Regions from separate parts of the Homo sapiens genome. Here region 1 is linked to region 2. Evidence: fine-mapped expression QTL. A gene starts in region 2. The other region holds a variant in brackets. All regions are shown on one strand. Distances are between the middles of the regions. Region 1 overlaps ERVK3-1 (endogenous retrovirus group K3 member 1). Region 2 holds the start of A1BG (alpha-1-B glycoprotein).

What was found. PIP is the estimated chance that this variant, and not a neighbour inherited with it, causes the effect. A credible set is the group of variants that fine-mapping cannot tell apart.
Region 1: its variant is the best candidate, but not a certain one, in a credible set for the expression of A1BG in whole blood (TOPMed, PIP 0.80).

The regions. Positions count from the first base shown.
Region 1 is chr19:58,315,977-58,321,344 of GRCh38, reverse strand. ERVK3-1 (endogenous retrovirus group K3 member 1) reads right to left here. Exons shown (of 4, transcript NM_001396080.1): 4 at 4,533-5,368. The region is part of intron 2 of LOC105372480 (a long non-coding RNA gene); the gene reads left to right. It also overlaps the pseudogene LOC100887072. Among named protein-coding and RNA genes, the nearest start is that of ZSCAN22, 8.3 kb to the left of the region's middle. The variant C/G (reference allele first, on the strand shown) is at 2,321.
Region 2 is chr19:58,351,085-58,356,398 of GRCh38, reverse strand. It overlaps A1BG (alpha-1-B glycoprotein), which reads left to right and starts at 2,907. Exons shown (of 8, transcript NM_130786.4): 1 at 2,907-2,995; 2 at 3,072-3,107; 3 at 3,202-3,471; 4 at 3,844-4,116; 5 at 4,712-5,008. The coding sequence starts at 2,962. It overlaps ZNF497 (zinc finger protein 497), which reads left to right. Exons shown (of 3, transcript NM_198458.3): 3 at 1-2,042. The coding sequence ends at 260. A1BG-AS1 (A1BG antisense RNA 1) reads right to left here and starts at 4,429. Exons shown (of 4, transcript NR_015380.2): 1 at 3,355-4,429; 2 at 2,925-3,020; 3 at 2,542-2,685; 4 at 1,216-2,030.

The sequences.
Region 1 (5,368 bases), 35 kb after region 2:
GGGCAATAAAACCCCAAACTATATGGTCTACCTTAATACAAGGCACAAACAACTGCAAAAGCATCTTTTAAAAATATGTATTTTTTTGGGCGGGCGCAGTGGCTCATGCCTGTAATCCCAACACTTTGGGAGGCCGAGGTGGGTGGATCACGAGGTCAGGAGTTCAAGATCAGCCTGGCCAAGATGGTGAAACCCCATCTCTACTAAAAATACAAAAAGCTGGGTTTGGTGGCGGGGGCCTGTAATCCCAGCTACTCGGGAGGATGAGGCAGGAGAATCACTTGAACCCAGGAGGCGGAGGTTGGCAGTGAGCCGAGATTGCGCCACTGCACTCTAGCCTGGGCGACAAAGCAAGACTCCGTCTCAAAAAAACAAAAAAACAAAAAACAAAAAAACCCACATTTTTTAAATTTCATTTTTGTCTTGGCAAAAACTGAAATAAAGTCTTCTAGGACTGCTGAGAGGAAACCTGTTCATACCTGTGTACCTCCTACCACTTGGTTAGCATCCATGGGAATCTAATTAAAGTGGAAGTGGCCATTGTGCCCCTTGATAATTATGGAGAAGTATCTCCATGTGACATCTGAAAGACATATCCTAGGCCCACTCCCAGCTTCCTCACCCGCCCCGGTGACCCTGAAGGGAGAAATGTATAATAGGGGCTTCTCACACTGACCCTGATTTCCTCACACTCACAGTCCCTCTTCACCTGCCACCCCGGTGCAAAGGACAACACACCAAGGATAGATGGGAAGATCTCTGCCATATTTGGCACATGCCCAGTTCACTGACATACAAGAACCAAAGCGTCACTGAGGGCTTTCTGATATCCATGTATTCACATGGTTTTCCCTGGGAATGAATTCTCTGGTGCTGGGCCAGGAATCTGCTTTGGCGGAAGGCTTTGCCACACTCACAACACTCAAAAGGGCTTCTCTCCAGGGAATCCTCTCATGTAGTACAAGAGTTGTGGCCTCCTGGAAGGTTTTCTGACATATATGGCATATGAATGGCTTGGTACATGCATGCACATGCTGGTGCTGCGTGAGGTGTGTGCCACGGCTGAAAGGGTCGTTCCCCAGCGTGTACCTGGTAATACTCGGTGAGGTGTGACATCTGGATGCAGGACTTGCCACACTCATTCCACTTGTAGGGCTTCTCCCCATTGTGAGTCCTCTGATGGAGGGCGAGGGATGAGGTTTGCATGAAGGCTCTTCCACAGTCACCACACATGAAGGGCTTCTCTCCCATGCGGACTTGCTCATGCTGGGTGAGAAACTTGCTGTGGCTGAAAGTCTTCCCACATTTTCCACATGCATAAGGATGCTCGCCTGTGTGCACCCGCTGGTGTAGGACCAGGGCTGAGGAGTCACCGAATGGCTTCCTTTACTCACCACGTATGTACGGCTTCTCACCGCTGTGGATCTTGAGGTGCTGGGTCAGGTAGGACCCCTGGCTGAAGGCCTTTCCACATTCTGCACACACATAGGGCCACTCACCTGTGTGTACCTGCTGGTGCTTGCTGAGGGATGAGCTGTGGCTGAAAGCTTTCCCACATTCCTGACACGCATACAGCTTCTCTCCCGTGTGGCAGCGTATGTGCTCAGCCAGGGACAAGCTGGGGCTGAATGCCTTGCAGCATACCCGGCACTCGTAGGGCCTCTCACCCGTGTAGGTTCCGTGGCATGCAAGGAGGGCCGAGAAGTCAGCAAAGGCTTTGCTGCTCTTGGCAGGCAAATGGCTTTTCCCCGGTGTGGAATCACCAGTGCTGTACAAGGTGTGTGCTCTCGCTGAAGGTGCGTCCACACTCACCACACACGTATGGCTTCTCACCTGTGTGCACACGCTGGTGCTTGGCAAGGGATGAGCTCTCTCGGAAGCACTTGCCACAGTGGCCACACATGTAGGGCTTCTCGCCTGTGTGGACGTGCCAGTGCTTGACTAGAGATGAATTGTTGCTGAAGGTACACCCACATTCCTGGCATGCATACAGCTTCTCACTGGTGTGCTGAACAAGGTGACTTCTCTGTCCAAAGGCCTTGCCACACTCTTCGCACGTACAGGGTCTCCTTTTGTTGGGAATCTGCTGATAGCTCACAAGGCACGTGTTCTTGCCAAAGGTATCTTCCCACCCACTACATGGCAGTACACCCTCCCCAGCGTGGACTCCTTGTGGCTGATTAAGGTCTGGGAAACAGCTGCAGGCCTCCCCACATACACCCTCTCCTTGGCAGGAGCACCCCTGATCTAGGACGGAAACACACGTGAGATCGTTTTCCAGAATGTGGTTAGGGGTGGCTTGTGTCTCTGGGGGAGTGCC[C/G]TGATATTCAGTAACAAATGGATGCCAGCTGGAAATTCCTGCCAGGCTCCACTCTCGGCTCTTCATGCCACTGACTGACCATATCCCAGCTCTGGGCCTGTTTCCTAGTTTCCTCACTAAGCTGAGCACATGTACGTCTGTAAAAAATATACATGTATTTTTGAAAGCACAAAGTTTCACATCTCTGCCTGCCAGTCACTTACCAAACAACCTTTGGTTTAACTTTTCTGTGCCCCAGTTTCCCAACCTGTAAAAGAGGGTAATGATGATAGCTCCCCTTTGATTGGTTGAGAGTACCATCAAAGGTGTTTGCTGAGCAGCCTGACCTGCAGGAGGTGCTCAGGAAAGGGGAGCTGCTGCTGTCATTTGGTGGAAGTGGGTCCCCTTATTTGGCTAGCAGGGCCTGAACACTGCCACACTCCAACACATTGTCTCCACGTTAAGGAACTCAGCATCACACAGCAAGCCCTCGAGAAGCCCACAGCCAGAGGCAGTGTGGGGGCAGCAGCATAGATGGCTGTGGCTGCCTGTGGGGACCCAGCCTAGGTCCAGAGGAGGTACCCAGATGAGGTGGGGTGTCTGTGTGGACGGCTTTCTGTTTTAGAGGCAGGCGTCTGAGGCACAGCTCTTAAGCATCAAATCAGGAAGCCTCTTTCTGTGGAGCCCCAAGCCCAGTGACCCCCTTGCCTTCCTGGGAGTCAGGAGCAGAAGGAGGGTGTGCAAGTGGCATGGCTCTAGGCAGCAAAGATGCCATGAGGTGTTCGTGTTCTGTTTCACAGTCTTTCCACAGAGTGATGCCATTCCATCCTCCTGGGAGTCTGTCCCCATCATACTCACCATAACTCAAGGCATCTGCTAGCCAGATAAGGGGACCCACTTCCACCAAATGACAGCAGCAGCTCCCCTTTCCTGAGCACCTCCTGCAGGTCAGGCCACCCAGCAAACACCTTTGGTGGTACTCTCAACCAATCAAAGGGGAGGTATCATTACTCTCTTTTACAGGTTGGGAAACTGGGGCACAGAGAAGTTAAACCAAAGGTTGTTTGGTAAAGTGACTGGCAGGCGGGGACGTGAAACTTTGTGCTTTCAAAAATACATATACATGTTTTACAGAATTACAAGTGCTCAGCTTAGTGAATTTGGTAAATGCACAGCCCTGTGTAACTAGCATTCAAATTAAATTCTAGAATGTTCTGTGAGGATGGAAAAGTTCTGGAGTTGTGCTGTCCAATATGGCACCATCAGTGTCAGGTAGCTCCTGAGTACTGGAAACATAGCTGGTGTGACTGGGACATGGAACTTGTAATTTTATTTGAATTTAATCATAACTACCATATTGGACAGCGCAGGGCTAGGACATTTCAGCACCTTAGACAGCTCCCCTGTAGTAAGTAGCCCTTCCAGGAAAGGTGTCCCAGCCTAATTTTTTTTTTTTTTTTTTAAGACGTAGTTTTCCTCTTTTGTCCAGGCTGGGGTGAAATAGTGCAATCTTGGCTCATTGGAAGCTCTGCCCCCCGGATTCAAGCGCTTCTCCTGCCTCAGCCTCCCGAGTAGCTGGGATTATAGGCACCTGCCACCATGCCAGGATAATTTTTGTATTTTTAGTAGAGACAGGGTTTTGCCACGTCAGCCAGGCTGGTCTCGAATTCCTGACCTCAGGTGATCTACCCTCCTTGGCCTCCCAAAGTGCTAGGACTACAGGCATGAGCCACCGCGCCCAGCCCAGCCTCTTCTTGAACTTCATGAAAATTATGTGCCCTGTTATAGTCTGAGGCCTCAGCTCCATGCTATCAGGCTTCAAGGACAGCAGCCACAGGATACCTCTATGAGGACTATGTGAGAACAAAGTGAGATGTCAAGTGGGTGAGTGCTCTAAAGAGAAAAATTGATCATTCCTGCTGTACTGAATTCAGGTCCTAACAGAGACTCCCAGGAGGAAGGGCAGATGTGGGGCCTTTTGTTCCTTCCCACGAGACAAGAGTACTGAACAGACTATTTGGGCCCTGATTTGCCCATTACCCACACCTTCCTCCCCATCTTATTCCTAAGCTGAGAATGGCAAGTATGATGGTAGAGGCTGTCAGATCTAGGATCAAATCTTCACCACTCTCTGCTGTAATTCTGGGCTGCTCACCTCCCTTGGGGTCTGTTTCCTATCTATAAAATGGAACCTCCTGTGAAAAGCTTTTTGCTCATTAAGGAATGAATTACATTTAACAAAGTTTTGGATTTTATTAATAAAATGTATGGACATGTTTTTCTCTTGTTAGATAGGTACCTTTGTAACATTCTTGGTTTTCTCTCTGAGCCTACAAAGCTGACATTTGCTGCTTGTGTGTTTTTTGTTTGGTTTTTGAGACAGAGTTTCGCTCGTTGCCCAGGCTGGAGTGCAAAGGCACGATCTTGGCTCACCACAATCTCTATGTCCTGGGAACAAGCGATTCACCTGCCTCAGCCTCCCGAGTAGCTGGGATTACAGGCATGCATCACCACGCCCAGCTAATTTTTTGTATTTTTAGTAGAGACAGGGTTTCACCATGTTGGCCAGGCTGGTCTCATAGGCCCAACCTCAGGCCTGCCTCAGCCTCCCAAAATGCTGGGATTACAGGCATGAGCCACTGCGCCCAGCCTGCTGCTTGTGTTTTACAGAAGAGTTTGCCAACCATACTCTGATGGCCTGGGCAGTGATGGAGGGTTTAAAGAGAGGGGTGGCCTCATCAGTCAGGGGTAAAAGACCCTCTCTACCCAATGCTGAGTGGAGAGTGATGAAGGGGGCAACGGGAGGCAGGAGAACCATGAGGAGGTAGTGGTGTAGAGCAGGCTGAGGAAGGCAGGGCAGTGGAATGAAGGCAGCAGAAGCAGGGTGTGTTTTAGAGGGATATCTGGTTTCTGAAAACATCTAGCCCTGTACCTGCCTCCTGTGCCACTGTGACTGCCACCCCACCATCTACCTCACTCGGCACCTCAGGCTCCATCACCTCACCCTCTCTCTGTCTCCACATTGCTTGGCCTCAGCAGCTACAGGGTAGGGGGCACCCGAGGTCTCAG
Region 2 (5,314 bases):
CCTTCGCCTGCGCAGAATGCGGCAAGGCCTTCCGCGGCAGCTCCGAGCTGCGCCAGCACCAGCGCCTGCACTCTGGCGAGAGGCCGTTCGTCTGCGCCCACTGCAGCAAGGCCTTCGTGCGCAAGTCGGAGCTCTTAAGCCACCGGCGCACGCACACGGGCGAGAGGCCCTACGCTTGCGGCGAGTGCGGGAAGCCTTTCAGCCACCGTTGCAACCTCAACGAGCACCAGAAGCGGCACGGGGGCCGCGCTGCGCCCTGACCCGAGGACGCCCTGAGCGGGAGGTCGCGGACACACGGCATTGCGGGGTCTCGGGCGTGAGTGCGCTGTCTGCTGGCCCAGACTTTTTCGGGCCGCCGGTGCGGGCGCCCTCCTGCTGGGAGTGCAGGGGCGGCCTTGGGTGTGGAGAACCCTGGCTGCACAGTCCCTTTGACGATAGTCCACCGGCCACCCAGGCCTGTCTGGGGACATGTAGGATGGGCTCTTACCCCAGGGAGGGCGGCAGGCTCCACTTCGGCGAGAGGTTCGTCCATGCAGAGGTGGGCAAGAACTGGGGTCTCCGACAGGTGTGGCTATTTCTTTGAGTTCTCTGGCACTGTCAAAAGCAGCCAACCCACCCCCCAGTCCACATGGTCACCACTGCTGCTACCAGCTGCTCAGTGCAGTGGCCACTGTGTCTCCTAAGGTGCTCGCTTCAGTCAGCACTTCATCTCAGGCAACCACAGGTGACAGTTAAACATGATGAAACCGCATGCTATGGCTTTCTAGTGTCTCATATTCTGTTGGCAAGAAGCTCAGCACTGCATTCCTGACCGAGGTCAGAACCAGATCAATCTCAGAATCTCACCTGTGTAGGTCTGTTTCATGGGACTTTTCTTTTTTGGGGGAGGGGGCAGGGTTTCACTCTGTCACCCAGGCTGGAGTGCAGTGGTGCAATCACTGTTTATTGCAGCCGCGACTTCTTAGGCTCAGGTGATCCTCCCACCTCAGCCTCCCAAGCAGCTGGGATGACAGACTTGCGTCACTACACCTGGCTAATTTTAAAATTTTTTGTAAGGACAGTGTCTCACCATGTTGCCTAGGCGGGTCTCAAAACTCCTGGGCTCAAGTGATCCTCCTGCCTCAGCCTCCCAAAGCGTTGGGATTATAGGCGTGAGCCACCGCACCTGGCCAGGGAACCTTCTTTATACCAAGTACCACACCAGTCAGAGTCAAGTCAGGAAATAGAAACCACACTAGGTATTTCAAACAGAGGGGATATAAGTTAGGGACTGATTGTGCAGGTTTTGCAAGGCTCAGAGAGCAAAAGTGGATGTTGCAGAATCTCAGAGCTGGATACTTGCAGGAAGCTGCTACCACCCTTAGGGCTGGAGAACCCAGGGAAGCTAAGAGGAGGGTGCAACGAGGCTGGTGTTGGGACTGCCAAAGGAAACACAGAATGACAGCTCCATCTCTGCAGACCTCAGATTTGACCAGGCCTCTGGCTGCCTGGGCAGCCTCATTGCCAATGGGCTGAAAGGTTCTGTCACTGTTCAGTGGTCTGACTTCTGAGTTCTGTGCACACCCTGAGCTCTGCTCCTCTGGCCTGGCCACCAGTCCTTGTCTGAGTGCCCCAGGTCTGGTTATGACTTCAGGCCTCAGCACCTGGTTGTCTCTTCTGCAAAGAATGCATTCTCCCCCAGTCCACCCAGAACACACAGCCTCCATCCAGGTACTGGCTCTGAGCAGGACAGAGAGCATGCAGCAGGTGCTCAGCAATATGGAAATGGGACCAAACAGAGGGAGTCTCCACAGCTCCCCGTCCCTCACAGCAGAAGCCAGAGCCGCTGCAGTGCCCAGCTGGTCTTCATCACGTCTATGAGCTCTGCAATCGCTCTGCAGTCGCCTCAACTCCTGGTCTCCTCTGCTCCTTCTCACTGCACCCGCATCTCCCATGTTTGCACTGGCTGTTCCCTCTGCCTGGAATGCTCCTTGCCCAGTTATCCCACTGTCTTCTTTGCATCTGGCACACAGTAGATGCTCAATAAATGCCTGTGGAATGAATGAGTGGGGAGGATGCAGTGCAGGGGGCAGATGAGGGCTAGGCGGTTGCCCTGGGCCCTCACACTCGTAGCGGAGCTAGGCTGGGACACCCAGGGTGGGGACCAGACCTCCCCGGGTGGGAATGACAGGATGTCCATGGAGGCTGAGTGTGAAAGCACCACGGTCTCACCCCTGTCCTGTTCCATCCCAACAGGCTGTGGTGAGGAGAGGGGGAGGCAGGGGAAGCGGGAGGCCTGGCCTCCAGGCAGCAGGCTATAGCCACATGAGTGACCACCAGCAGCTCAGGTAACTGAGCACATGTCACGGGTAGGCCTGGGAAGCGCAGGTCTCAGCTGAATGACCTGGGTGGAAATCCGACTCCAGAGCCGTGGTGGGTCACACCATGCAGAATGAACCAGTGATGGAGAAGGAACCACAGTCCTCAGGAAGAGTGAGGGTGCACCTCCAGACAGCCCATGTGAGGGCAACCGCAGAAAGTCTGAAAAGAGGTGAACCCCACCTTTGGTGTCACATGTGCAGTGTGGTGTGACAGGGAGGGGCTCGCTGGGCTTCAGCCCCGGCACTCTCCACTTGACCTCAGCAGCTCCAGGTAGAGTGGGGAGAACTCAGCGTCTCCTTCTAGAACAGGTTCTAGGATCCATCACTGAAATGAGGATGAGGTGGTTTTAACATCATTTTATCACTCTTGATTTAGTTTATTAATCATACATGATTATTGATTATAATTGTTGCTGGGCATCCTGAGGCCTCAGAAGTTCACCCTTTGCCCTGACCCCATGGGGGCCCTGCCCCCGCCTTCCGGGAAGGACAAACACGGGAAGAGGTCAGTGCCCGAGCCACCCCACCGCCCTCCCTTGGGGCCTCATTGCTGCAGACGCTCACCCCAGACACTCACTGCACCGGAGTGAGCGCGACCATCATGTCCATGCTCGTGGTCTTTCTCTTGCTGTGGGGTGAGGCCTCCTGGGGTCTGGGTCCCTGGGGCGGGAGGGGGCGGGAACAGGAGCCTTACGGGGGCTGTCTCCGCAGGTGTCACCTGGGGCCCAGTGACAGAAGCAGCCATATGTGAGTGCAGGGGTGAGGTCTGGGAATGGTGGGCCCAGGCCGGGGGGGAGCCCTGTCTCTGTGGCACTGAGCTGATCCCAGCCACCCCTTGCAGTTTATGAGACGCAGCCCAGCCTGTGGGCAGAGTCCGAATCACTGCTGAAACCCTTGGCCAATGTGACGCTGACGTGCCAGGCCCACCTGGAGACTCCAGACTTCCAGCTGTTCAAGAATGGGGTGGCCCAGGAGCCTGTGCACCTTGACTCACCTGCCATCAAGCACCAGTTCCTGCTGACGGGTGACACCCAGGGCCGCTACCGCTGCCGCTCGGGCTTGTCCACAGGATGGACCCAGCTGAGCAAGCTCCTGGAGCTGACAGGGCCAAGTGAGCCGGGGCATGAATTGGGGGCCAGGAGGCAGTGGGTAGGTTGTTGACTGGGGGGTCTCCCTTCCTCCAAGTCACCCGATGTCTCTGAGCCCCAAGCCCCAATCTTCCCATCTGTCAAATGGGGATGATGTCTGTGTTGTAAGGAATACATGGTTGTGTCCCCAGCAGGCCCGGCATGCCGTACAGCTCCCACACACTCTTTTTCTCTTGCCGTATGCCTTGTTTCCACTGGTGCCTGCCTGCCTTTTCCCAGCAATGCCCTCCATCCCTGTCTCCTTCACAGTCTTATGAGTGTGGGGCCCAGGTTCTGCTGGGCTTCCCACGTCTCCTGTTATGCAGAAGCACTCTTCAACTCCACCCCACCCACAGAGTCCTTGCCTGCTCCCTGGCTCTCGATGGCGCCAGTGTCCTGGATCACCCCCGGCCTGAAAACAACAGCAGTGTGCCGAGGTGTGCTGCGGGGTGTGACTTTTCTGCTGAGGCGGGAGGGCGACCATGAGTTTCTGGAGGTGCCTGAGGCCCAGGAGGATGTGGAGGCCACCTTTCCAGTCCATCAGCCTGGCAACTACAGCTGCAGCTACCGGACCGATGGGGAAGGCGCCCTCTCTGAGCCCAGCGCTACTGTGACCATTGAGGAGCTCGGTGACTGTGGGAACCATCTCTGGGGGCTGCTGGGGGAGGAGGATACAGGGGGCATGACCACATTCATCCTGACCTCCATGCTGAATGTCCTTGCCCAGGACCAGGTCCAGGAAGCTGGCCACACGGTTGCCTGGGTCTGATGGTTGCAAAGGAGTTTGGGCAGAGGATGCCCAAAGAATGGAAGGGTGAGGCCGGGTGCGGTGGCTCACGCCTATAATCCCAGCACTTTGGGAGGCTGAGGCCAGCGGATCATGAGGTCAAGAGATCGAGACCAGTCTACCCAACATGACGAAACCCCGTCTCTACTAAAAATACAAAAATTAGCCAGGTGTGGTGGCAGGTGCCTGTAGTACCAGCTACTCAGGAGGCTGAGGCAGGAGAATCCCTTGAACCTGGGAGGCAGAGCTTGCAGTGAGCTGAGTGGCGCCACTGCACTCCAGCCTGGGCAACAAGAGCGAAACTCCGTTTCAAAAAAAAAAAAAAAAAAGAATGGAAGGGTGTTCCTGGGATTGCCACCCGGAGGGCAGAGGTCTGGGGACTGGGCAGAGGGCAGCTCCAGGGATGGGGCAGCCTAGTAATGCTGCCTGCATTGCAGCTGCACCACCACCGCCTGTGCTGATGCACCATGGAGAGTCCTCCCAGGTCCTGCACCCTGGCAACAAGGTGACCCTCACCTGCGTGGCTCCCCTGAGTGGAGTGGACTTCCAGCTACGGCGCGGGGAGAAAGAGCTGCTGGTACCCAGGAGCAGCACCAGCCCAGATCGCATCTTCTTTCACCTGAACGCGGTGGCCCTGGGGGATGGAGGTCACTACACCTGCCGCTACCGGCTGCATGACAACCAAAACGGCTGGTCCGGGGACAGCGCGCCGGTCGAGCTGATTCTGAGCGATGGTGAGCCGGGGCCAGCAGGGACAGGGACGCGGCTGGGTCCCTGGGGAGCAGGAGCAGTACCAGGTGTAGAGTCTGGGGAAGTGCAGTGCTCTGGGCCAGGGTCCAATACCAACTTTATCCGCCCACCCGCCGATTCAGGGTCCTAAACTGCAAATATGATGATGAGCGTGACAACCTTCAGGCCCCACAGGGAATAACTGGGTGAACAGGTCTGGCCCAGGCCACAGGGGGCACCACCTGGCAGGTCCCATCCCAGCTGCCAGGTCTAGGTGAGCACTGAGGGCCTCTGCTGAGGCAGCTCCTCCG